3 separate regions of the Homo sapiens genome follow, and regions 2 and 3 are each linked to region 1. The links come from fine-mapping of genetic effects on gene expression. A gene starts in region 1. Each other region holds a variant in brackets. All regions are shown on one strand. Distances are between the middles of the regions.

What was found. PIP is the estimated chance that this variant, and not a neighbour inherited with it, causes the effect. A credible set is the group of variants that fine-mapping cannot tell apart.
Region 2: its variant is the best candidate, but not a certain one, in a credible set for the expression of CASC15 in lung (TOPMed, PIP 0.61).
Region 3: its variant is the best candidate, but not a certain one, in a credible set for the expression of CASC15 in sigmoid colon (GTEx, PIP 0.70).

The regions. Positions count from the first base shown.
Region 1 is chr6:21,662,314-21,670,494 of GRCh38, forward strand. It overlaps CASC15 (cancer susceptibility 15), which reads left to right and starts at 4,100. Exons shown (of 12, transcript NR_015410.2): 1 at 4,100-4,332; 2 at 6,334-6,586. LOC124901483 reads right to left here and starts at 3,747. Exons shown (of 3, transcript XM_047419653.1): 1 at 3,739-3,747; 2 at 3,334-3,502; 3 at 2,228-2,645. The coding sequence starts at 3,747. The coding sequence ends at 2,242. RefSeq lists a silencer at 3,365-3,659.
Region 2 is chr6:22,039,938-22,048,118 of GRCh38, forward strand. All of the region lies in intron 7 of CASC15 (cancer susceptibility 15), which reads left to right. Among named protein-coding and RNA genes, the nearest start is that of NBAT1, 100 kb to the right of the region's middle. The variant A/G (reference allele first, on the strand shown) is at 3,643.
Region 3 is chr6:21,609,354-21,617,534 of GRCh38, forward strand. No RefSeq gene overlaps it. Among named protein-coding and RNA genes, the nearest start is that of SOX4, 20 kb to the left of the region's middle. The variant G/A (reference allele first, on the strand shown) is at 4,556.

The sequences.
Region 1 (8,181 bases):
ACTGGGGATTCAATCAAAAGCTATGTTACTTCTAACTAATTTTTCAAAAGTGTGATTCTAACAGTATTTCCTGTTGCATTGCTGATTGCTAGCATTAGACTTACGGAGCTTCTTTCTGTTTAATGACTCTCTGTGCAAAACTTTCACGTATGACATATGATCCTACTTATTGCTACTTAACGTTTCCTTCAGTAAGCTATCTAATTTTAAACTATTACATAGAAAATGAACTAGATAACTCAAGACATTTCTCATTAATTAAATAACTTCTTTTTTAGAGAAAATCGGATCTTGTAACTTCATTCTCCAAATAGAACAGAGTCCTCCCTTTAGAAAGAACATATATAAGAGGTTTCTTAGTTGTGTTTCCCCAGAAACTGACCCAAAGGGTAGGATTTGAGGGCAAGTATTGTAATCTATTTGGGATGAGATCCTAGAAAGCATTGGCAGGGAAGAGAGTGAAGGAAATAAGTAGAGAAACCAGGAGGGAAGGAAGAAAGGAAGGAAGGATGGCAGGCAGGTAACACTGTTCCCTAAAGGGGAGGTTACTGCTGTGTGTATCTGAAACTCAAAGTTGGGCACCTTTGGGAGACTAGAGTACAATTTACCGTAGTCCTAAGCTCAGTGGGGAAGCTGGAGTATTTTTATATCAACACCTTTTTTTTTTTTTTTTTGAGATGGAGTGTCACTCCGTTGCCCAGTCTGGAGTGCACTGGCACTATTTAGGCTCACTGCAACCTCCGCCTCATGGGTTCAAGCAATTCTCCTGTCTCAGCCTCTCGAGTAGCTGGGTTTACAGGCACATACTACCACGCCCCACTAATTTTTGTATTTTCTAGTAGAGACAAGGTTTCACCATGTTGGCCAGGCTGGTCTCGAACTCCTGCCCTCAAATGATCCACCCACCTCAGCCTCCCAAAGTGTTGGGATTACAGGTGTGAGCCACCATGCCTGGCCTCAACACCTATCTTTGATTGGTTGAGGGCTGCTCTGAGAGGAATTAACTGCCTGGCTCCTCTGCCCTGCCCCTCTGCACTGGCAAAGTGGGGTCTGGCAGCCACAGGAAGCCCTTGAATGGGGAAGCAGAGAGGGAAGAGTAAGATGCCATTGGCCTGCCAGTAGGAAGCCCATGACATACTGGTGGAGCCCCAGCCCTGTTAGTACAGAAAAGATACCTGGCTGATATGCTCTGCTATATCCATCTTTGAGCCTAGATGATGTTAATTAACTCTTTAAAAATATATTAAAGCTGTGGTGGCATCTGAGAAAAGATGGTATGCTTTTAAAAGGTAGGAGTGAACAGCTCATACATTGTCCCAGGAGTGGGCTTTATTACAGAGATGGGGGAGCTCTGACCTGTTGAAGACCAAGATTCCAGGAAGAAATGTTTGTTCACAAGCAGGTTGGGAAAGGGAGATACTTCAAACAGCTCTGAGAGCAATATTTCATAAAGACAGGCAGCAGGAAGAAAGCCTTCTTAAGGCCATATTGACTTTTGCACCTAGCAAATGACCCTTACTCTTCATTCCCATAAAAAAGAGAGAAACAAACAGTAAACATTTTCAAAGGATCGGTAATGTTTTAATAGCTCTGATTAGTAAGCGGAGTATTGGGTGTTATTTCGAAGTCAAAAATTCTATCTTGGTTGATTTACCCTATAACCTGGAGCATTTTCGAGAGGCAACAGAATGGAATTGTCTCAAAGTACTGACTTTTCATTATTTTCCACGCAGATCCCTGAGGATAACAGAAGGAAAGGTTTTGTCTGGGGGAGGGTAGGCTTCTCCCAAAAAGAGAATTCTGGAAGTCAACATAATTAAACAAAGAGGAAAATGTGCCAGACAGGAGTGGGTGGGGGCTGTTTTCTCTTTGTGGTTGGTTGTGGTGCGTTCAAGATTCCTCGCCTAAGATGAGGTTCCTGAGCTTCCAGTAGGCGACTGACTGCCCAAGAGACCCAGGGCTCCGCAAGGAGACGGCGCAGGTGTCGGGGCTCCCCGCAGGTGAGGAGGCCGACGTTCCAGGAGGTCCGCCCGGGCGGTCCCTGAGTCCTGCCTCGCGGCTGCTCGCTGGGATCCGAGGGCGGAACGGGACGCGCAGGAACCCGGCCCGACGGGCGCGGCTCACACCCGTGCTCTTCCTGCGCTCTCGGCCTCACTTTGCGGCCAGAGCCGCGGCCCTGCGCGTGGCCGGCGGCCGCTTCTTTATCTCCGACCCCACTGCCCAGTACTGTACGCGTCCAGACTAAAGAAACATCATTCGCTTAAGGGGCTGGGAAAAGCGCGTGCTCCGCTCGCCCTGGCACCGCGGGTCGCCCAGCTCGCAGACTGGGACGGGCGGTGCAAGAGGTGGTGCTCCCTGTCCAGGAGGGGACGCGGAAGAGGGCATCTCTGGTCCCGGGATGCGATTGTCCCGGTTTCTCCTTCTGGCCCACTCGCCGCGCGCACGAACTCTAGGGGAAGTTGGTTGTAAAGTTTCCGAGAGCGGCGTGGGCTGGTGCGAGTGAAGCGCGGGGCGGGGGAGGCGAGGACAGAAGCTCTCCTCGCGGCGTCTTTGTTCTGCTCTGGAGGAGAGACCTTGGCAAGGAGTCGCCGGGCGGGTGCAGGGACCTACCGCCACCACATTCCGGACCCAGCGGGAGCCCTCCTCTTAATGCCCCTCCCCCCGCAAGCCAACCCAGGACATAGCCCCCAGGTCCCCAAGGTTCCGTCTACCTCATCCTTCTACCCCCAAACTTCACCAACCCGAAAGGATTCCAAGTCTGGGATGGGGAGAAAGGAAAGAGGGTGGAGGCAAAGGTGCGCGACGGGCTGGATACCAACTGGAGGGTGGGTGTTCGCATTGAAATGTTTTTTTCTTTTGCCCTAGAAATTGCTTCCCCATGCGGGCCCCTACTCTCTCCCATTTCCCCCACCTCCCTGCTTTCTTTTTCTTCAATTCTAGTGGATCTAGAAGGAAAACGAGTGCTGCTCTGAGTCACTCAGCGAGCTAATGCTATGGCCCGAAGTTGGGATCAGGGTCGAGGGGTGGGGGACCATGTGGATGGGGTCCCAATTCTGGAGGTTGAGAATGACTGGAAGGGACCTGGGGAAGGGTCGGGAGCTGTTCCTGGTCCGAGACACCTGATTTGTCCCGGACAAGGCAGTGGGGGAGGGGAAGGAAAGAGGGGATGCTCGGCTGGGACGTGTCGCGGCAGGGGGTGGAGGATGAGGAGGCGGCCTGGGACCCCGAGTCAGATCTTTGGGGTGAGCACGAGGACGTGGTGTAGGGAAGAGGACGAGTGAGCAGCGCCTGGCTGTAGGGTCAGAGGGCGCCTGGTCATCCTGAGAGCCTTGCCTTCGCAGTTTGAGATTAGGGGAAGTTCGGGGCCTGAGAAGGTGGGCGCGATGCTGGAGCTGGGAATTCTTCCTCGGAGCCCCTGGACCGAGTTGCGCTGCGCCTGCAGCAACAGGTAGCCCCGAGGGATGGGCGGAGGCCCCGGCCGAACCCGGAGCTGGCCTTTGTCCTGCCAATTAGAGGGCTCTCCAGAGGGACAGCGTGGGTGGGGGTAGGTGGGGAAGGGCGGGAGAGGAGTTTCCTAACACTTGGAGCCCCTTTGAGTTGTTCTGTGTATTGGGTGGAGGAGGGTGAATCCGAGAGGAGGGAGGAGGGTGAATCCGAGAGGAGGAAGGAGGATGAAGAGCCTAGCCTGCGCCCCACCTCTGATTGTGTAAGCGCCTTTATCTAGGGTTGACCCCCTACCCTTTGCATTTTGTCTCTTGGGATGACGAAAAATGGACAGAAACTCGACGCCCAAGTGAATGTTTCACATTGATTGGCAGGGAAAGTGCAAACAAAGAGGTGCATCTCCGGGAAACAATGATTTTGGAGATCCCCTGCCCACCACCCCAGACTTGTGCGCGGTGCGGAGGGGGCCAGGGCTGGCATCTCCCGGGGAAAGTTTCGAGCCTGGCAGTGGGAGGAGACCGTCTGGGCAGAGTTGTGATGAACTGGGGACCGAGCAGCCCCAGCTCGCCTCGGAGGTTCCCGAGCCGGGCGGGAGATGCGGGGAGAGGGAGGGGGCGGGGAGGGAGGGGAGGGAGAGAGGAAGAAGGGGTGAGAGGGAGAAACCTGCCGCCGCTCGCCGCCTCTTTGTCTGCTCCGGGACTTGGAACAAAAGGGGGAACTCTGATGAACTCTCTTTCCTCCCCTCTCCCCCGGACGCCGGGGTATCTCCCTCTCGCAACTTTGCCGCCCCGACTTTCTCTGCTGTCAGGCCGGGAAAAAGTGTCCGAACGCCTCGTGGACTGCAGCGGGGGAAATGTCCCTTAAAAGTGCGACGAAGTGGGGAAGAAGGTGAGTGGGGACTGTTGTCTTGTTTACCTCTCTCCCCTCAACTCGCCCCGCTCCCCGCCCTTCGGAGGGCAGAGGAGTAGCCCAGTGGCAAAGTTTGGCTGGTAAATTGTACCTCCTTTCCCCGTTCCCTTCTCTTTTGTTCTTTAAAGAACTCGCGCAATTGTTTCATTTGTTTATTTTTAATAGGCAAAAGCCAAGTAGGCATTTATCTTATGTGCTTCTTTATATGAGGGGCTGGGGGGATGGGGAGGAGGGTTTCAAAAGGGTGGGGTGAGGGGGTATTGCTTCGCGTTCTTCCAGCTGCACTCATGTAGGGATGAATATGCAGAAATTGAGAGGGTCAAGTCCAGCCTCGCCCCCACCCTAGCCCTGACCCTGGTCATGCAAAAGAAAGCGATATGGATATGGGGGTCGTTTGTATAACTTAGCTGTCTGCAGAGCGCTCTGTAGATACCACGCACAATATAAAAACGCTGCAACAATGGAAGGAAGAAAGGTTTGGGTTGGAGGGGATTGGTCCCTTGTGTTAGCGGTCAAGGAGAGGTTTACAACAAACAGCTAAGAGTTCAGAAAGTTTTCTTCGGGGCTGAGATGGGGTGGAGGAAGCCACAGGTTACAGACTGTCAGAGATGCAGGGATGGAGGGGATGGGGCCTGGACCACTAGTTAGAGCCATCCCGTCCGCCCCTTTCAGTTTCACGATCCACCCGGAATAACCCAGGCAATCCTTGGTATCCGTCCTCACCTCTCTCACTTTCCATCACCCCCCGCCCCCAACCCCACTTCAGTGTGTTTGAATAGAAAGCAGAACGTGAGCCCCAGAAGCTCCTCTGACCCAGCCTTCCGCCCCGCCTTTTGTGTTTTAACCTTTTGTTTCTATCTGCCACGCCCGTCCAAAAGAGGGATGGCTGTTTCTGCTGCTGCGGGGTGAAGAGGCAGCGCAGTCCACTCCGTTTTTATAGGCTAAGGAAGACGCCCTAACTTTGTTTCCTAAGTAGCTTAACTTAGGAATGTTTCTAGGTTGGGTCATGCGCGAATGAGGGGAACACTCAACACCCAGTAAACGTTGCCACTTTAGGTACAATTTCTCCCAGCGCTTTTCCACTTTATACAGGAGTTGTTTATCCCATACTGTCATTTGGTTTGTAGAAAAAGCATTTTGGGGGCCGGGCGCGGTGGCTCACTGTAATCCCAGCACTTTGGGAGGCCGAGACATGTGGATCGCTTGAGGTCAGGAGTTCGAGACCAGCCTGGCCAACATGGCGAAACCCCGTCTCTACTAACAATACAAAAATTAGCTGGGCGTAGCGGTGCGTGCCTGTAGTCCCAGCTACTTGGGAGGCTGAGGCAGGAGAATCGCTTGAACACAGGAGGCTGAGGTTGCAGTGAGCTGAGATCGTGCCATTACACTACAGCCTGGGTGACAGAGCCAGACTTTGTCTCAAAAAAAAAAAAAAAAAAAGGAAAAGCATTTTGGAGACTGAAGTTGGGGGTTTATTGAAAGTGGGCAAATGTATGCCTTATCTGAGGTGATATCTAAATATTAGGAATATGCAGAATAGGCTTTTTGAATTCTACATGCAGAATAACCTAAAGGTTATTATCTTCAGGTATGTTTTGTGAGATCATTTCTGATGCCAGGATAGTTTATTACCTTCTCCACTTTCTTCTCTCATATATTCCCAAGTGCTAGAGGCTTTCCTCACTTCCTTGGACTTACTTTTGACAAGACAAATGAAACATCAAAGCGCATGCACTGTCAATAACTTGAGGAAACGCCCAAACATTGTCTTTTAACTTCTTCAACTTTTGATTCTGTATAGTAGTAGTTACTATTGAAGTAGTTACTATTGTACCTAGAAATGATTCAACTGCTAGAACTATGTAGTTTTGAGTTTTCATATCAAAGACTGAAATATATTATTGCAACAATTACTTTCTTTTACAAAGTGAGGAGGCAGAATGACCTGGAAGCTAACTTTAATTAATTTCAATTGTATAGGTGTAATTACTATTATCAGCATCTAGAAAGCATCATGAATTTGCTGGAGTACTTCCTAGCACTGACCTCCTTCATTCTGCGTTGTTCTTACTGGATCTTTCCATCAGCCAACAATATGGAAGTACCAATACAAGGTCAAATCATTCCTGGATTCATCTGGAGTTGCTTAAAAGTTAAATCATTGGAATTTTTGATGATACCTTTTCTATATGGATTACAATTTGATCGCTGGGAATTCTCCACCTTAAAGAAGGTATGTTGCTTTTTAGATACTCTACGAGGACTTCATTTTTGGTCTGGGGCTTATACCCAGAGATTTGACTAGTTATTTTGAGCGGCTGTGTTATCAGAGTGATTTATGACTTTGGACTTCCTTGTTTTAAACTGTTTTCTGTAGATCCTTTCTTATTTAGGATGATGATTTGGGTATTTGTGATGGAATTTTATTAATTTTACCATCTGTTCTTCAACATTAGCACACATAATGAATGCAGATTATATGGTCACTAAGGAAATTTTGTAATGATGATGCATCCAGCAGGGAAATATCCTACTTTATTTGTGATTGATTTGCTTCTTAAATATTGCAGTAGATATTTCTAAGTTCTGTGTTAGCAGAACTTATGTTGTTTGCATTACTATTATTTTTCTTCATTTTGACACTTCATTTTGGTAAACAAAATCCAAAAATGGCCCAAAATAAATGTCTAATGACTGGGAGTCTATATAAAATACAGTAAGTTCTCTCAGAGTGAAAACCTTGAGTTTGTAATAACAGAGCCCGTACATTTGTTTAACCTTTATGGCATACATCAAGTTTTTATAGTGGTCATAAGAGTCTTCTATTCCTTCTTTTAAGTCTTACAATTAGTTTTTGTTCACCTCTGTGAGAAAGTAGTTAAAAATTCACATAACTACTGTTGGTAATATAAAAAGTTAATTTTGATATATTTACAATCCTTGTTTAAGTGATTGTTTGCCATGGAAAGTAAGAACTTTCTTTCTGTGGTCTGGTCAAATAAATTAACTGGGAATTGGAAACATTTTTATCTTGTTATGAGGAAAAAAGGAACATTACAACTTGCTTCTTTCTAGCTGTATAAACATAAACAAGCTACTTAACCTTCCTGGGCTTCTGTTTGTTACCAATAAAATGAAGGTTAAGTTAAATAACTTAAAACATTTTTGAAATCTTTTAACATTAAGATTCTATGATTTGTTACTTGCTTCTATAAATAAGATACATCCTCTCTTGTAAAGTTTGTTTTTACATCATTGAACAATAGAGTTAACAGCATCATCAAGTTTTTTTTTTTTTTTTTTTTTTTTGTGTGACGGAGTCTTGCCCTTGTTGCCCAGGCTGGAGTGCTGTGGCGCGATCTTGGCTCACTGCAACCTCTGCCTCCCAGATTCAAGCAATTCTCCCACCTCAGCCTCCTGAGTAGCTGGGATTATAGGTGCCTGCCACCATGCCTGGCTAATTTTTGTACTTTTAGTAGAGACCGGGTTTCCCCATGTTGGCCAGGCTGGTCTCAACTCCTGACCTCAGGTGATCTGCCTGCCTCGTCCTCCCAAAGTGCTAGGATTACAGGTGTGAGCCACCGTGCCCCGCCTTGGCATGATAAACTTAATGTGATTTAATTACAATTATTTTGTTTGAATGCTTAGCTCAGGTAGCATTAGTTCAGGAAATATGCTTTAAATTTTCTGTAAAGTATACTCTCAACTAAGTGTTCTGTATGGAAATTTCAGATTTCCTTAAATGTTCTCAATAAAAGTTTGTCTGCTGGAATTTTTTTTTTGGAGGTGGAAAGTACAGTATTATTTCTCGACAAACGTTTTACCTAC
Region 2 (8,181 bases), 380 kb after region 1:
TGCTGGTGCATCTCTCTGTCTTTATGCTAGTATCACCATGTTTTGATCACTGTAGCTTTGTAGTAAGTTTTGAAGTCAGGAAGTGTGAATCCTTCAGCTTTGTTCTTTTTCAAGATTGTTTTTGGCTATTCAGGGTCCTTTGAGAGTCCCTATGGATTTTCGAATGGATTTTTCTATTTCTGCAAAAATTGTCATTGGGATTTTGATAGAGATTGCATTGAATCTACAGATTGCTTTGGGTGGTATTTATATCTTAACGGTATGAAGTTTTCTAATTCATGAACATGGTATGTGTTTTTATGTATTTATGTCTTTTTAAATTTCTTTCAGAAAGTTTTTATTGTACAAGTCTCTTAACTCCTTGATTAATTCCTAAGTATTTCATTGTTTTTGATGCTATTATAAATGGAACCATTTTTGTAATTTCCTTTTCAGATTGTTCATTGTTAGTATATATAAATGCAACTTACTTTTATATGTTGGCTTTGTATCCTGCTACTTTATTGAATTTATTATCTCTAACAATTTTTTGAGTGCGGGATCGGGGGATCTTTCGGAGATAAGATCAGATCATTTGCAAACAGAAATAGTTTTATTTTTCCTTTCCAATTTGGATGGCCTTTATTTCGTTTTCTTGCCTAATTGCTCTGGCTAGAGCTTCTTGTACCATGTTGAATAGAAGTGGTGAAAGCAGGCATCCTTGCCTTATTTCTGATCTTAGAGTAAATGCTTTTAGTCTTTCACCATTATGATGTTGGCTATGGGTTTTTTCATATATGGATTTTATTATATTGAGGTAGATTTCTTTCTAGTATGTTGAGTATTTTCAACATGAAAGGGTATTGAATTTTGTCAAGTCCTTTTTCTGAATCAACCACATTGAGATGATCATGTGGTTTTAGTCTTTCATTCTGTTAACATTATATATTATATCAATTTTTCTATGTTAAACCATCCTTGCATTTCGGGACTAAATCTCATTTGGTTGTGGTGTATAATTCTTTTAATATTCTGCTGAACTCAGATGGCTAGTATTTTGTTGACAGTTTTTACATCAGTGTTTATAAGGGATATTGGTCTATAGTTTTCTTTCTTTTTCTGGCTTTGCTATCACGGTAATACTGGCCTCATAGAATGAATTAAAAAGTGTTTTATCAGCCGGGTGCAGTGGCTCATGCCTGTAATCCCAGGACTTTGGAAGGCTGAGGTGGATGGATCACCTGAGGTCAGGAGTTCAAGACCAGCCTGGCCAACATGGTGAAACCCCATCTCTACTAAAAATACAAAAATCAGCTGGGCATGGTGGTGTGTATTGGTAGTCCCAGCTACTGAGGCAGGAGAATCACTCGAACCCAGGAGGCAGAAGCTGCAGTGAGCCAAGATTGCGCCACTGTACTCCAGCCTGGGCAACAGAGTAAGACTCAGTCTCAAAAAACAAACAAACAAACAAAACGTGTTTTATCTTCTTCAGTATTTTGAAAGAGTTTGAGAAAGATTGGTGTTAATTCTTTATTTTTATTTTTATTTTTTGAGACGGAGTTTCACTCTTGTTGTCCAGGCTGGAGTGCAATGGTGCAATCTCAGCTCATTGCAACCTCTGCCTCTCAGGTTCAAGTGATTCTCCTGCCTCAGCCTCCCAAGTAGCTGGGATTACAGGCATGTGCCACCATGCCCAGCTATTTTTTGTATTTTTTTTAGTAGAGACAGGGTTTCATCATGTTGGCCAGGCTGGTCTTAAACACCTGACCTCAGGTGATCCACCTGCCTCAGTTTCCCAAAGTGCTGGGATTATAGGTGTGAGCCACTGCGCCTGGCTTACTTCTTTAAATGTTTGGTGGAAGGTTGTGCATTTTTAAAAACAGTTTTAAAGAATATATTTAATCAGCTGAACTGAGGGAATTGTTACATTTAGGATAAAGAGAAGTTTGGAAAACTGTGGGGTTTCCAGATTCATTGTTTTATCTCCAAGTGACAATTCCCTTCTGCTCTCCCGAGTCTTTACCACAGGACTGAAGATTCAGTTTGGCCTCTGTGATGTGGCCTGGCCGACAGTCTGTTGCTCTCTCATCCTTTAGGAGTCCTGGATGATTAGTAAGCATTTTCTCACAGCAAATGATTCAGAATGAAATGTAGTTCCAGATACAAAAATTATTTCTGAAAATAACCTCACTTCTTTAAAACCATTTCTGTTATATGTTGATTTAAAAGCATTTATACTGATCTCCAGTCAACTTTCTCTTTCTCTTGGTGTTCCTTCTTCATCCCTCTCCCCACTCTCTTTCTCTCTCTTGCCTGCCCACCTGCCCGCCCCCCTCCCTTCCTCCCTCCCTCTCCTTCCCCCTCCTTCTTCCTTCCTTGCTTCCTTCCTTCCTCCCTCCCTCCCTCATGGAATACCCAGAACAATACTGTCTAATAGACATATAATATAAGCCACATGTGTAGCCATGCTAAAAAAAAAAAAATGAAGAGAATTAGGTGAAATTGATTTTAATAACACACTTTATTTAACCTAATATATCCAAAATATTATTTCAATATTTAATTAATATAAAAATTAATGAGCTATTTAACTGTATTTTTCATAGTAAGTCTGTGAAATCCACTGTTTTAAACTTGAGATACATCTCAGTTTGGACTGATCACATTTCAAGGACTCAAGAGCCACATGTGTCTAGTGACCACTGTATTAGACAGTGCAGACCTAGTGTATTTGGTACCAAGCACGTAAAGTCCAGAAAAGGGCAGCCCTCCACTTTGCTTCATGGACAGGACAGATCAATAAAGGATGAATGATGGCTGTGAGTACCTGGGGAGGAGCTGTGCATAGAGTATTAGGGAAGCCCAGAGGAGGGGGTCCAAAGGCAGACCTGTGAGCTGGGGCCTCCCTGCAACTTACTTGGCTTGTTCACTACCACTAGATCTCATTTCTTTGAACTAGTCCCCTGTGGGGAGGCAACTGAGCTGGAGTTTGGCATGGGCCCCAGTCCATCAGACATTAACTTTTTGCCTCATGTATTAAGAGAGCCACTGGCAAGTTCACATTTAATTACAGGCTCTGCTCTGGCCACAGGTTTGGGAGCTGGGATTTTGGAATCACAACCTCACTGCTTTCTGTTCTGGTCTGCCTTTCATTCCCACACACAGGATGGCTCATCTAGCTTCCTGGAGATTGCTCTCCGGCCAGGTGCACCTCCTTGCTTCTTTTTACTGCAGTGCCCAGAGGAAGATGTAAAGTATGACTGAGGGAAGGGAAGGAAGAAAACATTTTTATTTTCTTCTTTGTCTAGACACCTCCCCTACTCATCTCTGGGAGGCAGCACCAAGAGCTCTGGTTGTTAATGGAAAGGTCATCAGGTGGCCTTCTGTGGATCCACCTTGTCCCCACCCTGGCCACTGTGCCTGACCTGCTTCTCAGGGATTTAGAGAGGTAGCTAATGTGGATGGTGTGGCTCCAGCAGTTAGGCAAGTGTGTGTATATCCAGGCTCCCTGCTTGGGGAAGGGTGGTAGAGAGATGTTTACAGATATCCAGCCAGGAAGTGCAAGGGAAGAGGAGGAGCTGTTTCCACTTACCCTCCTACCTCCTTTTGGCTTTCTCTTCTGGCATTGCCTACGGCCAAAAAGGGATGGGAATTTGGCAAAGT[A/G]AAAGTATCTCATTGTACTTCCCCACCCCTCCGTCTCACCTCCCTTCTAAGACTTTTTTCTACCCAGGTCACTTAATACTCAAAGACTGCAAATTCCTTTCCTACTGCTGATGTGGAAGAAGCTTGGAAACATGTTCCTTTCCAGGAGATAAGTGATACGGCAGAAAGACGGGTCAGATGAGGCCAAGGGATTGGAGCCAGAGTCTTACCAAACTCGCAGGCAGCTTGTGACTGCGGGCATGCTGTGCTGATGGAGGAGGGGAGGCCTGGGGGCTCCATGCTGTCGGGATTCCTCCCTTGATAAACAGAGTCAAGGTGGGTAGGGGGACCTTGTGAGAGGTGTCCAGCCCTTTAGAAGATTCTATTAGCATGTGTTGGCTTGTTAAATGATCTACCCATTGAGATTGGTGGCCTGGTCCAAGGCTTTGCTTCTGATACCACTTAATCTCTTTTAATATTTGAACTCTATACTATTAACATAGATTTCTTTGGGAACTGTATGCATTTTCCACCACAGGGAATCAAATCCAGCATATAAAGATGGCAAGAATCTCAGTAATTACCTAAATTCATGAAGAAGCCAAAGTAAAAATATTTCTTCTCTTGGGAATAATAAAATAAAATAAAATAAAATAAAATAAAATAAAATAGATGAGAGCTGAATAGCTCTTCTCCTTACCCCACACTCACAAATCTCCTAAAACTCAAAATTAATGTTACAATACACATTAGCAGATAGCATTTTTATCGATAAGTGTTAAATTAAGGAGTTAACACTGAGAAATTGAAACTGATTAAGAAAATGGAAAAGGCCACAGTATTTGAATGTCACATATGCATACTTATATTGTACCGTAGATACTGAAATAAGATCATTGTTACTGGTGCAGCCTGTGGTCAAATGCATTTTTTTTCTTTTTTTTTTTTTTTAAGACAGGGTCTCTTTCTGTCGCCCACGTTGGAATGCTGAAGTACAGCAGTGCAATCATGGCTCACTGCAGCCTTGATCTCCCAGCTGCTCAAGTGATCCTCCCACTTCAGTTTCTTGAGTAGCTGGGACTACAGGCATGCAATACTGTGCCTGGCTAATTTTTTAAATCTATTTTTTTTGTAGAGACAGGTTCTCAGCTCAGGCTGGCCATATGCATTTTGACACCCCAAAATATTTTGAATTATTCTTAGTTTCAGTAGATGAGATGAGTGATCATTTGAGTTCCTTCAACAGGTCATTAGACCAGACCAGAAGCGAGCTGTGATGATAACACAGGCTGTGGGCAGGCAGGCACCATGAGGCACAGTGAGAGCACCAAGACTGTGGGCTTTGGGTTTGAATCCTGGCTCCACTACTAATCAGCCCTGTGCAAGTGACTCAGCCTCTCTTAACCTCATTTATTTTCTGTAAAAATGGGAATTGTAGATTTATATTTATGGAGATTATTAAGATAATCTGTGTAAAATACTTAGTCCACAGTACCTGACAAATATTAAATTCTGAGGAAATATTAATTGCTATTATTACTACTTCAGCTCTGAAAATGCTGTTTTCTTGACAGTAAATGGCTGTTTTGTTTATTTCTGCCAGTAGCAAAGTAATATATTGATTGTTTAATGCCTTCTTGGCCTCTTTGAAAATGTTTAAAATTATGTTTACCTTTTCTTTATATCATTGCAGGTTTTGTGTGTGTGTGTGTGTGTGTGTGTATGTGTGTGTGTGTGTGTGTGAGAGTGAGTGCGTTTTGGGAGGCCAGTAATTACCCTGTGCAGATGGAGCTGCCCAAACAGTCTTTCCCATGGCAACTGAAAAAATAAAAAATAAAAGCAAAAACTTTGAGGTTACATAATTGCCTTCAATAGACTAGGAGGAGTGTAGAGATCATGACTTTTTTTGTGGGTTTTGGTGTTCTTTTGGTGTAAGGTGTTGGGTGAAGGTACAGAGGTCCTACTGAGTAACTGAACAGGATGCTGTTGCTTGCTTTGAAGTGAATAAATTGGTCAAAAGTACAAGTGGGAGGGGAAGTTGAGGTTTAATGAAGGAGGGCCATTATTAATGTTTCCATGGTTTTAGCAGTTTAAAAGTTGGGAGTTTAAATAATGTTGTTAGTTGTGGGGAAAACAGCCCACAGACATTCAGACATAGTTGAAGTTTAGTCTTTCAGTCTTCATTTTAATCTGAAGGTAGGGAGCCGAGCCTTCTGAATCACACAGCAAAGGGATTGCTTCGTAATTTTAACAGTCTGAATTATTGCATGCTCATAATGGCATAAGATTTGCATAGCTCCACCACTCTCATCAAATCCCAATTATCTGAAGATTGTTTCTCTTGGGAGGCAAAAGAATATTATAATTTTTGGGTTTCTTTTAATCTTCCAAAATGATTTATATTCATCCCCTTAAAACCTGGGTGTAACCAAAGGCACTAGGGCCCAAAGAACAGGTGTTGTCTTTCCAGAACATCCATAAAAGGATCCCTGTATACATTCTCTTTGCACCTCTTGTGTAGGGGTTAACATGGAAGGCTTCATTATTTGACTGGAAAGTAGGTTTGACTTTCCCACTGGAGATTTGATACTCTTAGCTCCAGAACCAAGAAAGAGAAGACTATTAGACTTTCCTTGCCCACCACCCCCTCCCCAACCCTGCCAAATGTATGCTAAGCCTATATTTGTTTTATTTCCAACCAATTTGTTGGAAATAAATTGGTTATTTATTTCCTTATTGGTTTTTCTCTCCAGAGACCCAAAAGATCATATAATGCCAACTCTATGTTATTGATAATAATCTGGGCATAGGAAGAACACGGAGAGTTGAAATCCACAAATCCTCCTAAAACCCAACATTCAAAAACCTCTTCTGCTCAGCTCTTTACATGTGAGCAAAGGAAAGGAGAATGAGAGATAAGATATTAAATGAGTACACGTGGCTCAGGGCACTTGGTGTCAGAAACTCTGCGTTACAATCCAGCCTCTTCCAGTTACCTGGTGAGCACTGGGAAATTTTTGTAACTCCCTGAGTTCTCCCTTTATCATTTGTCACATGATGAAAGAACACTTTAGTCTTGTTGGTTGTTGTATTAGATGAGATACGATATATGTGACGATTTGTAAATTTTGGGGCACTCTCCATGTGGTGCTCACTACTTTGTGTCATCTGATAGAGAGGAGGAGGAAGCATATATAACTAGCAGCCTGAGTAAATATTGGTTATCGTTTACTTCCAAATTGCCAAGAATGGGCCGTAAACCAACAATCTGCCTTGTTTAACCTCCATCAGCTACAATTGCCTCAAGGCCCCCAAATTGCAATTGGTAAGACAAAAACAATAAATGCAAAATCCATATTTGTTTTCTTCTTCCTTAACTTTTTTCATTCATGGTGGTCAATTGAGGTTATTAACCTAACTGACCTGCAAGGATAAACAAATGAGTTTTTTTTTTTAATCCTTTCTGGGAATCCTAAATAACTAGTTTCAATTGTTGTAAGTTGTGGGAGCTGGGAATTTGTTTTCTCCCCAGTACTGGACTCTTTTACAGTGGCACACTGGGAAACCAAATTTGAAACTCAAAGGAGAAATGGAACGGTGACAGTTTCCTTTAACCTGAGCTCAGGGCTTTGGCAATAGCTCTGCTCCAGGTTTCTGTTCTATCTAGTTCTGCCTGGAACTTAGATAAAGGAAAGCTTTCTGTATCTTCCATCATCCTTGCCTTGTTCTAATGTAGCAGGAGTAAGTCTTTCCTAATAGTGTTGCTTCTTTTTTTTTTTTTTTTTGAGATGGAGTGTTGCTCTGTTGCCCAGGCTGGAATGCAGTGGCGCGATCTCGGCTCACTGCAACCTCCACCTCCCACGTTCAAGCATGTCTTCTGCCTCAGCCTCCTGAATAGCTGGGATTACAGGTACATGCCACCACACCCAGCTAATTTTTGTATTTTTAGTAGATATGGGGTTTCACCATGTTGGCAAACCATGGCTGATCACCAGTAATTCCTGACCTCGTGATCCACCCCCCTTGGCCTCCCAAAGTGCTGGGATTACAGGCGTAAGCCACTGCACCCGGCCGCTCTTTTTTTTTTTTTTTTTTTGCCTTCACTTTATTAAAGAATGAGAGTTTTCTTTTACATTTTTTCTCATTGCTCTCTCAGCTGTTTTTTGTTGAAACTAGTATGGAATGACTATTCCTTTCCTTAGTGTGTGCGCCCATGGTGCATTACACATGGCACTTCTCCCTGTAGGGGCCCCACTCTATCACAACAACCAGTGTCCTCATCTCTCCTAGGCCTTGCTCCTGGCCCAGCCCTGAGCACATACTCTGCAATATTCGAACCCTTGATCAATTCTGAAAGCAATTTATTAACTTCCAGCCGTGAGAAAGAAGTGAATTAGTGGTCAGGGTAAAAATTGTAGGCATAGTTTAAAAATTCATTCCAGTGACATAATGAAAAATTTCATCAGGAGTCAAGATTGGAGATCTCTTTTTGGCTTTGCAACTGAGTAAATGTGGTAAAGTTACTTGATGTCTATGTACTTCAGATTCTTATTTATAAAA
Region 3 (8,181 bases), 53 kb before region 1:
CCCAAAGAGTAAACAGCAGCAAGATTTATTGCAAAGAGCAAAAGAACAAAGCTTCCGCACTGCAAAAGGGGACTCGAGTGGGTTGCCACTGCTCGTTGGGGCAGCCTGCTTTTTTTCTCTTATCTGGCCCCACCCACATCCTGCTGATTGGTCCATTTTACAGAGAGCCCGGTGGTCTGTTTTGACAGGGCGCTGATTGGTGCGTTTACAATCCCCGAGCTAGACACAAAGGTTCTCCACTTCCCCACTAGATTAGCTAGATACAGAATGTCCACACAAAAGTTCTCCAAGTCCCCACCAGAGAAGCTAGATACAGAGTGTCGATTGGTGCATTCACAAACCCTGAGCTAGACACAGGGTGCTGATTGGTGTTTACAAACCTTGAGCTGGATACAGAGTGCCGACTGGTGTATTTACAATCCCTTAGCTAGACAAAAAGGTTCTCCAAGTCCCCACCAGACTCAGAAGCCCAGCTGGCTTCACCCAGAGGATCCCACACCAGGGCTGCAGGTGGAGCTGCCTGCCAGTCCCGTGCCGTGCGCCCGCACCCCTCAGTCCTTGGGCGGTTGATGGGACTGGGCGCCGTGGAGCAGGGGGCGGTGCTCGTCAGAGAGGCTCGGGCAGCACCAGAGCCCAAGGGGAGGGGGGTAGGGAGGCTCAGGCATGGCGAGCTGCAGGTCCCCAGCCCTGCCCCGCGGGAAGGCAGCTAAGGCCCTCTGAGAAATTGAGCACAGCAGCTGCTGGCCCAGGTGCTAAGCCCCTCACTGCCTGGGGCTGGCGCGGCCTCCCGGCCACTCTGAGTGCGGCACCGGCCAAGCCCACGCCCACCCGGAACTCGCGCTCTCCAGCAAGCATCGCGTGCAGCCCAGGTTCCCGCCGGGGCCTCTCCCTCCACACCTCCCCACAAGCTGAGGGAGTGGGCTCCGGCCTTGGCCAGCCCAGAAAGGGGCTCCCACAGTGCAGTGGCGGGCTGAAGGGCTCCTCAAGCGCGGCCAGAGTGGGCGACAAGGCCGAGGAGGCCCCGAGAGCAAGCAAGGGCTGTGAGGGCTGCCAGCATGCTGTCACCTCTCACTACAACAGAACATCCATGTGACAAACTGGCAAAAGATATTTTGGGCTAGGTTTGGGTCTGCTTTGTGGGAGTTCAATCTTATCTAGTCATCATAGAGACCAAGATACACTACCCCCTTTCTTTCTCCTTTACACAGATATACTCAGAGAAAATCCACACATAACCACCCAGAGCAGTTCCTCTTTCATCTGTTTTACATAAATGATTCTGCTTTAAAAATGGAGAAAAAAAACCTACTATTTTGGGATGTGATCATAGAGTCACTGATCACAGAATTTTGAACTTTTTAGATGACAAAGAATATTTAGGGGCCATTTGACCTAGCTCCCTGGCTTGATCCTACCAAATTCCCCAAACATATTAACATAACATAACATAACATAACATAACATAACATAACATAACATAACAACATACCAAACATCATAACATAATGTTCAGGCCTGTTCTGTCTTGGATGCTGGTTCATGCTCCAAAATTAACTATTATCAAAATCGTTATAAAAATCCCTGTCCCCTCAATAATAAATAATAATAATCATAATAAAACACAATAAAACCCACTGTGTTTTCCTTTAAGACTGCTGTTAGGTAGGTGTTTTAACATCAATATGACTGAAACTTTTTTTTTTTTTGAGACAGAGTTTTGCTCTTGTTGCCCAGGCTGGAGTGCAATGGCGCAATCTCGGCTCACCACAACTTCCACCTCCCAGGTTCAAGCAATTCTTCTCCCTCAGCCCCCCAAGTAGCTGGGATTACAGGCATGTGCCACCACACCTGGCTTATTTTGTGTTTTTTAGTAGAGGCGAGGTTTCTCCATGTTGGTCAGGCTGGTCTCAAACTCCCGACCTCAGGTGATCCGCCCACCTCGTCCTCCCAAAGTGCTGGGATTACAGGCGTGAGCCATTGCGCCCGTCCTGACTGAAACTTTTTGATTAAATGGTTCTCAGGTGAGGACCATTTAATAATTTATTTGAAGTTCCTGGGTAGTTGTGGGGCTATCTGTAGTCTCAAAACACACTGCAGTTTGTTCCCCCACCCCCAGGCAGAAGTAGGTCCAGAAGCCTGTCTTTGAAAGAGGCAGTGCTAAATACATTGGGAGATTTACTACTACATAAATGCACATTTAAAAAAAAGAAGATTGTAGTTAAGTTCAGATTGTTCATTTGTAGAAGGATGGGTAGTTTGACAAAATGAAGTGAGAACATTCATTCAGAAAGTGTGGGCGGAGATCTCTTTAGCTGTAGGTTGGTAATTGGCGGCCATTTTGGCAGGCTAAGTGGTAGCAGGCCTTGGGAATCTGCCCGAGGGTCAATTCCTCTAAATTGTTTCCATTTCTCCCAATTAATTATCCTTCTCCACCCAAACCCACCTGTTCTTTGAAAGAGTAGGAGAGTACTCAGGGCAATGTTTGCAGGTTCAAGTACCTACCACTAACAGAATTGGCTTTAAGAACTTCTCAATAAACCACAAGCATTTTATGAACAAAACAGCCCCACATATTTAAGGAGTAGAGAAATTAAAAATATTTTCATTTCCTCCATGCCCATTTGGAAGAAGACAGACATATGTAAACTAGGGACTGCCAATTGTATGCCAGTTTCTCTTACCTTTAATAGAGGCCTTAACAACTGTGGAGCGTTTAAAAATAGCGCTGACAAAGGATGGTTGAAACTATTCCTTTCTAGTCCTTCCTCACATAAGTAGCTGGAGCCCATTGTAGATGTGGGACCTGTGCACACGCACTGTGCAGTCAGGGGAGACCCTCAGAGAGCATTTTCCACCCCTGGACTCCTGCGTGGCTTGGTTCCTGGGGAGGGAGCACTTTTCCTCTATCTCCTTGCCATCTCTCATTCAAGTTGGTCCATCTGGAAGTAATATTATCTGAGCATTATACCCCAAGCCTGGCTCTCCACAAGTGACTGCATGTTTCCTGAAACCAACTATTGGCAGCTGTTACACAGGCATTTTCTGCTTTTTAGATACCTATAATTACACCAATTATGCGAATCATTGATGTTTATAAAGGATTTAAAATTTTACACACCCAGAAATGTCTATCAGAAAGCAGCATCTGAGGCAGAGTGACACCCTACAGAGGGGCCTATTTGGCCTTCACAATCGCTTCTGAGAGTCCCTTAAACTGAGCCATCAGCAGGGTAGGCAGCTTCTTATGAGCCTATATGTCTTTGGCAAGTTAATCCTGTCACTGGAGTACAATTCTGTTTGGTTAAGAACTACAGAACTCAATCTAACTTTTATTTTCAAAGGAAAGAATGATGTGTCGAAGTTAGTAAAATTAGGCATTTGACTTTAAACTCTCTGAACTGCAACACGAGGATAAGATGGTTGACATTCCCCTGTTCCAGCCTCCTCCTTTAGATACAGTGAGATAGGACAAGTACTGTCCCGTTAGCACACAGACTGGACAGCGAAGAGCCGTCCTGGCAGTGCCGGAGAGTGCCATAGTGGAGCCCGAAGCAAAAGGAAAACATGGGTAGTACTGATCTAGTCTTCATTTAAAGTTTTCATGCCTTTGTTCATTATGAATATTTTTGCATTGATTTTGACTTTTAAAAATATTGCACTGGCTAGGTGCAGTGGCTCATGCCTGTAATCCCAGCACTTTGGGAAGCTGAGGTGGGTGGATCACCTGAGGTCAGGAGTTCAAGACCAGCCTGGCCAACATGGTGAAACCCCCTCTCTACTAAAAATACAAAAATTAGCCAGGCATGGTGGCATGCCTGTAATCTCAGCTACTCGGGAGGCTGAGGCAGGACAATTGCTTGAACCAGGAGGCAGAGGTTGCAGTGAGCCGAGATTGCGCCACTGCACGCCAGCCTAGGTGATAGAGACTCTGTCTCAAAAATGTATATATATATATAAAATATATTATATATACTATAATTATAATATAATATATAATATAATTTAATATTATATATATATTTATGTCACTAAGCATTATTTGTCCCTATTAATGAGTTTTTTAGCCCCATTTAAATTTTGTACCTGCCCCAACTCAGAGTCTCTGGTGGTGGGTTTGGTGTGTGATTTGCTAGCTCCGGGATGGTCTATACCTCTGAGTCCTTTTTGTATTTCTCTATTTTTGTATTTGCCTTTGTCCAGCAGCCGGCTTCGCAGGATTTAACTATTTTTAATTGTGCTCCTGAAACATGAGAACAATTGTCCTTAATTGTTAGCATGCATAAGGATCATCTGGGGTGCTTGTTAAAAATGTAGATTTCCAGTCCTCCTGCCCTGCAATTTGGATTAACTACCCTGAGGTGGAATCAGGATGTCTGAACCTCTGTATGTCTACATTTTTAAGCAAACAAACAAAAATGGTTCTGATGCAGGTGGTTTGCAAACCGCACTTGAGAAATTCATGACAAGTATGTTTAAAAGTGTCTATTTCAGGAATAGTTACGTTTGGTGAGTTATGCCCTGTCTCATCAGAGGCAAAAAGGGTTACTAGGAAATG[G/A]CAACTGACTATGGAGTAGCTACCAAAAATGGACAATAAGAAAGTTACTCTCCAAGCCAACCCTATAAGGAACAGAAAGCAAGGGCCAGAAACCAGCTCCAGTAGGCTGGTAGCAATCTCTGGCAGGTAGAATTTCCTGATAATTCAGCAGACAGTAAATAAACCAGCACATGTGTAAGCACTTGGTGTCTATAGGCAGCTCACAAATGCAAGGAGATATCGTTATATATTTATTCAGTGTTTTTAGAGACACTTAATGTTCCACAGAACATTGCATTCCTTTACAAATCCTCATTCTGCCAAATTTTCTAAATTTAATAGGATTATCCCCTAATGGAAGGCTTTAACAATATTTCTCAAATTGAGGTTTGAGAACCACCTATTTAGTATGTAATCCACAAACGATAGGTGACTTTTTCTGAAAATGTTATCTGGAGCTCCCTAAAACACTTCTTTGCAGCCTCAGGCACTTGTGGAAACTCGCCAAATTATTTAAATCAAGATGAGAGGAATTTAATAACAGAAGCTAACACTCAACAGTTCCTATGGGCAGGTCCCATGCATTTGCATGGATTCTCTACCACATGTATTTCTCTCAGAGTGGACAAGAATCTTAGTTCTTAGTCAACAGGCAAAATTCAAACTCTGTAAGTAGGAACCAAGAACGGAGCGCTTAACTACTACACTGCTCCTAGCAGTGACAGAGGGTGTGCTCCTGTGACCCTAAGCCTCCCCCTCACCAGGGTAACATTCTCAACCAGTTTTATCACTGCTTCTTTACAAGACATTATTCCAGATGACCCCCGTCTTAGTTCTCTGCTGTGGACATTTCACATTTTTGAAGGGTCTTTGAAGACTGAAGACCGCATCCCTCAGCATAAAGCTTACATGTGTCCCATCAGCCCCAAACCTTCCTAAAGTCACCCTGTCTTCCCAGAGGTGGTCACACTGCTGCTGTCTCAGAGCTTCGCCCTCCACAAAGTGGACTTTTTCTCTTATGTGGCTGCTAAGCTTCAGCATCCCTATCTGATGCTCATGGGACCCATCATTGATCCCATCTGAATTGTATTTGATAGTGGTTTTAGTTGGTATACAATGATTTTGATCCTGTTTCTCCAACGGGGCATCCACACTGAGTCTCTCCAACGCATCTCCATTTTGCTGGCCCACACTGGCTTTGGGTGAGGCATGTGCTGTGTTTGGGAATCCTTATTATCTTCCTGGAACAAGATGCAGGACAGCTGGTTAGGTGAGTGCCTCAGTGTGCTTCCTTTGAAAGGCAGGAAGCAGAAGAGGGTTTTGCTGTCACTCCGCTGTCTGCTGTGCCGTAGAGAGGGAGCTTCCAGCCCTGGCGATTTCTGCTTTCCTTTTTCAGAGGCTGGAGATCTTCTTAGCCCCCTACCCTTTTCTTTTTTGGCAGGTGGGGAGCAGGGAATTCACTGGGCCAGGGATGGGAGGTGTGGGGAAGAGTGGAGAGTGAGCTGAGCCTCGTGATTACCAGGAAGGTATTGAAGTATTTTGTATGTTTGGAAGGTAACAGGGTGAGGTTAAAAGGTAAATCTAGTTTTTCTCTGTCCACATTCCCTACACACACACACACACACACACACACACACACACACAGAGCACACTCAAGCCCTCATGTTGTACTGTTTCTGCCACCGTTTCCCTGCTGTTGTATTGCTAGAAGAGGAAGGTGATATTTTGGAAGACATTTGATCCATCTAATGGAAGAGGAAGAAAACAGAGAGATGAGATCAGGGGAATTTCTGAAAAAGAAATTCTGAAACACAAGGGACAAAAGAGTGAGTCATCGAGTCAGCAACAATCATGGGAGACCATCTGGCTCACGGCTTCCCAATTTTGTTTTTAGGGTTTTTAAAAATGTCTAAATGGCTTGACAATTACCTGCTCTGCTGCATTCAGGAGGGAGGAAGGGTTATTTACTTATTTACCTCTGACAATGAACATTTGTATAGAGATTGAGGTGGCACATTATATTTTGGGCTAGGTCTCTGAAATGAACCTTTGAAAACAATATATCTGGTTCGTAATGAAAAGGAAAAATAAAGTTAAAATAAGGTGGCAAGCCTTGGTTCACCTTTTTTCCTGGCTGGCAGATCTGCCTCCCCTCTGTTGTGGCTGAAAATTGCAGATGCTCAATTCCCAGACTCCTTTTCTGCCAGGAGCACCCTGTGTCCGAGAAGTTGACCTAAGGGCAAGTCTGCCGGGGAGGGGAGGGAGATGTCTCAGAGCGATTTTCCTGCCTGATAATGGGTGAGAGGCCACTGATGAGTGCCTATTCCTGTTTCCTTCCTGCTTAGCGTGCACAGGGTGTGATGTTTGGAGCAGCTACGTGGCTGTCCTGTGGCCAGGAGCAAATGCCCAGAGAACCCTGGGAAGGCTGACCCAGGGCCCTGACATGATGAACTATGGAACCAATTCAAGAACAGCACCACCAAACTTCTTATGTGGGGAAAACAAATTCATGTTGACGAAGTCATTTTTAGTCCAGTGGTCTGGTTTTTTGTTTGTTTGTTTGTGTTTTGTTTTGTTGTTTTGTTTTTTTTTGAGATGGAGTCTTGCCCTGTTGCCCAGGCTGGAGTGCAGGCTGGAGATCATGGCTCACTGCAACCTCTGCCTCCTGGGTTCAAGCAATTCTTCTTTCTTAGCCTCCCTGGTAGCTGGGATTACAGGCGCCTGCCACCACGCCCAGCTAATTTTTGTACTTTTAGTAGAGACGGGGTTTCACCATGTTGGCAAGGCTGGTCCCAAACTCCTGACCTCAAGTGATCTGCCCACCTTGGCCTCCCAAAGTGCTGGGATTACAGACATGAGCCACCATGACCAGCCTGGTCTGTTTCTTGAAAGTAATTTGTTACCTGGTAGAGACAGAGAAAACAATTTTCATGCAGGATTTTATTGAGTGGCTTACTCTGAGCCCAGTGAAATTACTACTAAACTTTATCACCACCATTTACCACCACTAATGGCATCAATAGCAACATTTATTAAGCATTTATTATATACTTGTCCTTTATATATATATATATATATGTATATTATTTCATTTAATTTCAACCCTATGAGATAGTTATTATTTATCCCCATTTTATAGGTAAGAAAATAAATAACAGAGAGTTTGTTAAGTAATTTGGCCAAAGTAATAGCTGATAAGAAATAGAAGTGAGGCCAGGTGCTGTGGCTCACGCCACGCTTGCTTTGGGAGGCCAAAGCAGGTGGATCGCTTGAGCCCAGGAATTTGAAACCATCCTGGGCAACATGGTGAAACCCCATCTCTACAAAAAAAAAAAAAAAAATTAGCTGGGCTTGGTGGCTGATGCCTGTGGTCTCAGCTAAGGCAGGAGGATCACTTAAGCCCAGGAGGTGGAGGTTGCAGTGAGCTGAAATCACACCACTGAACTCCGGCCAGGGCAACAGAGCAGGACCCTGTGTTAAAAAAAAAAAAAAAAAAAAAAAAAAAAAAGTGAACGTAGTTCCACAGTTTACCATCTTTTCCATAGGCATTAGACAAAAATTTAAAGTACAGCATATGTTTTAAAGTTAATTTTAGAAAGCAGTTAGTTATAAATGTTGTTCATACATAATAGCATCCACTTAACCAT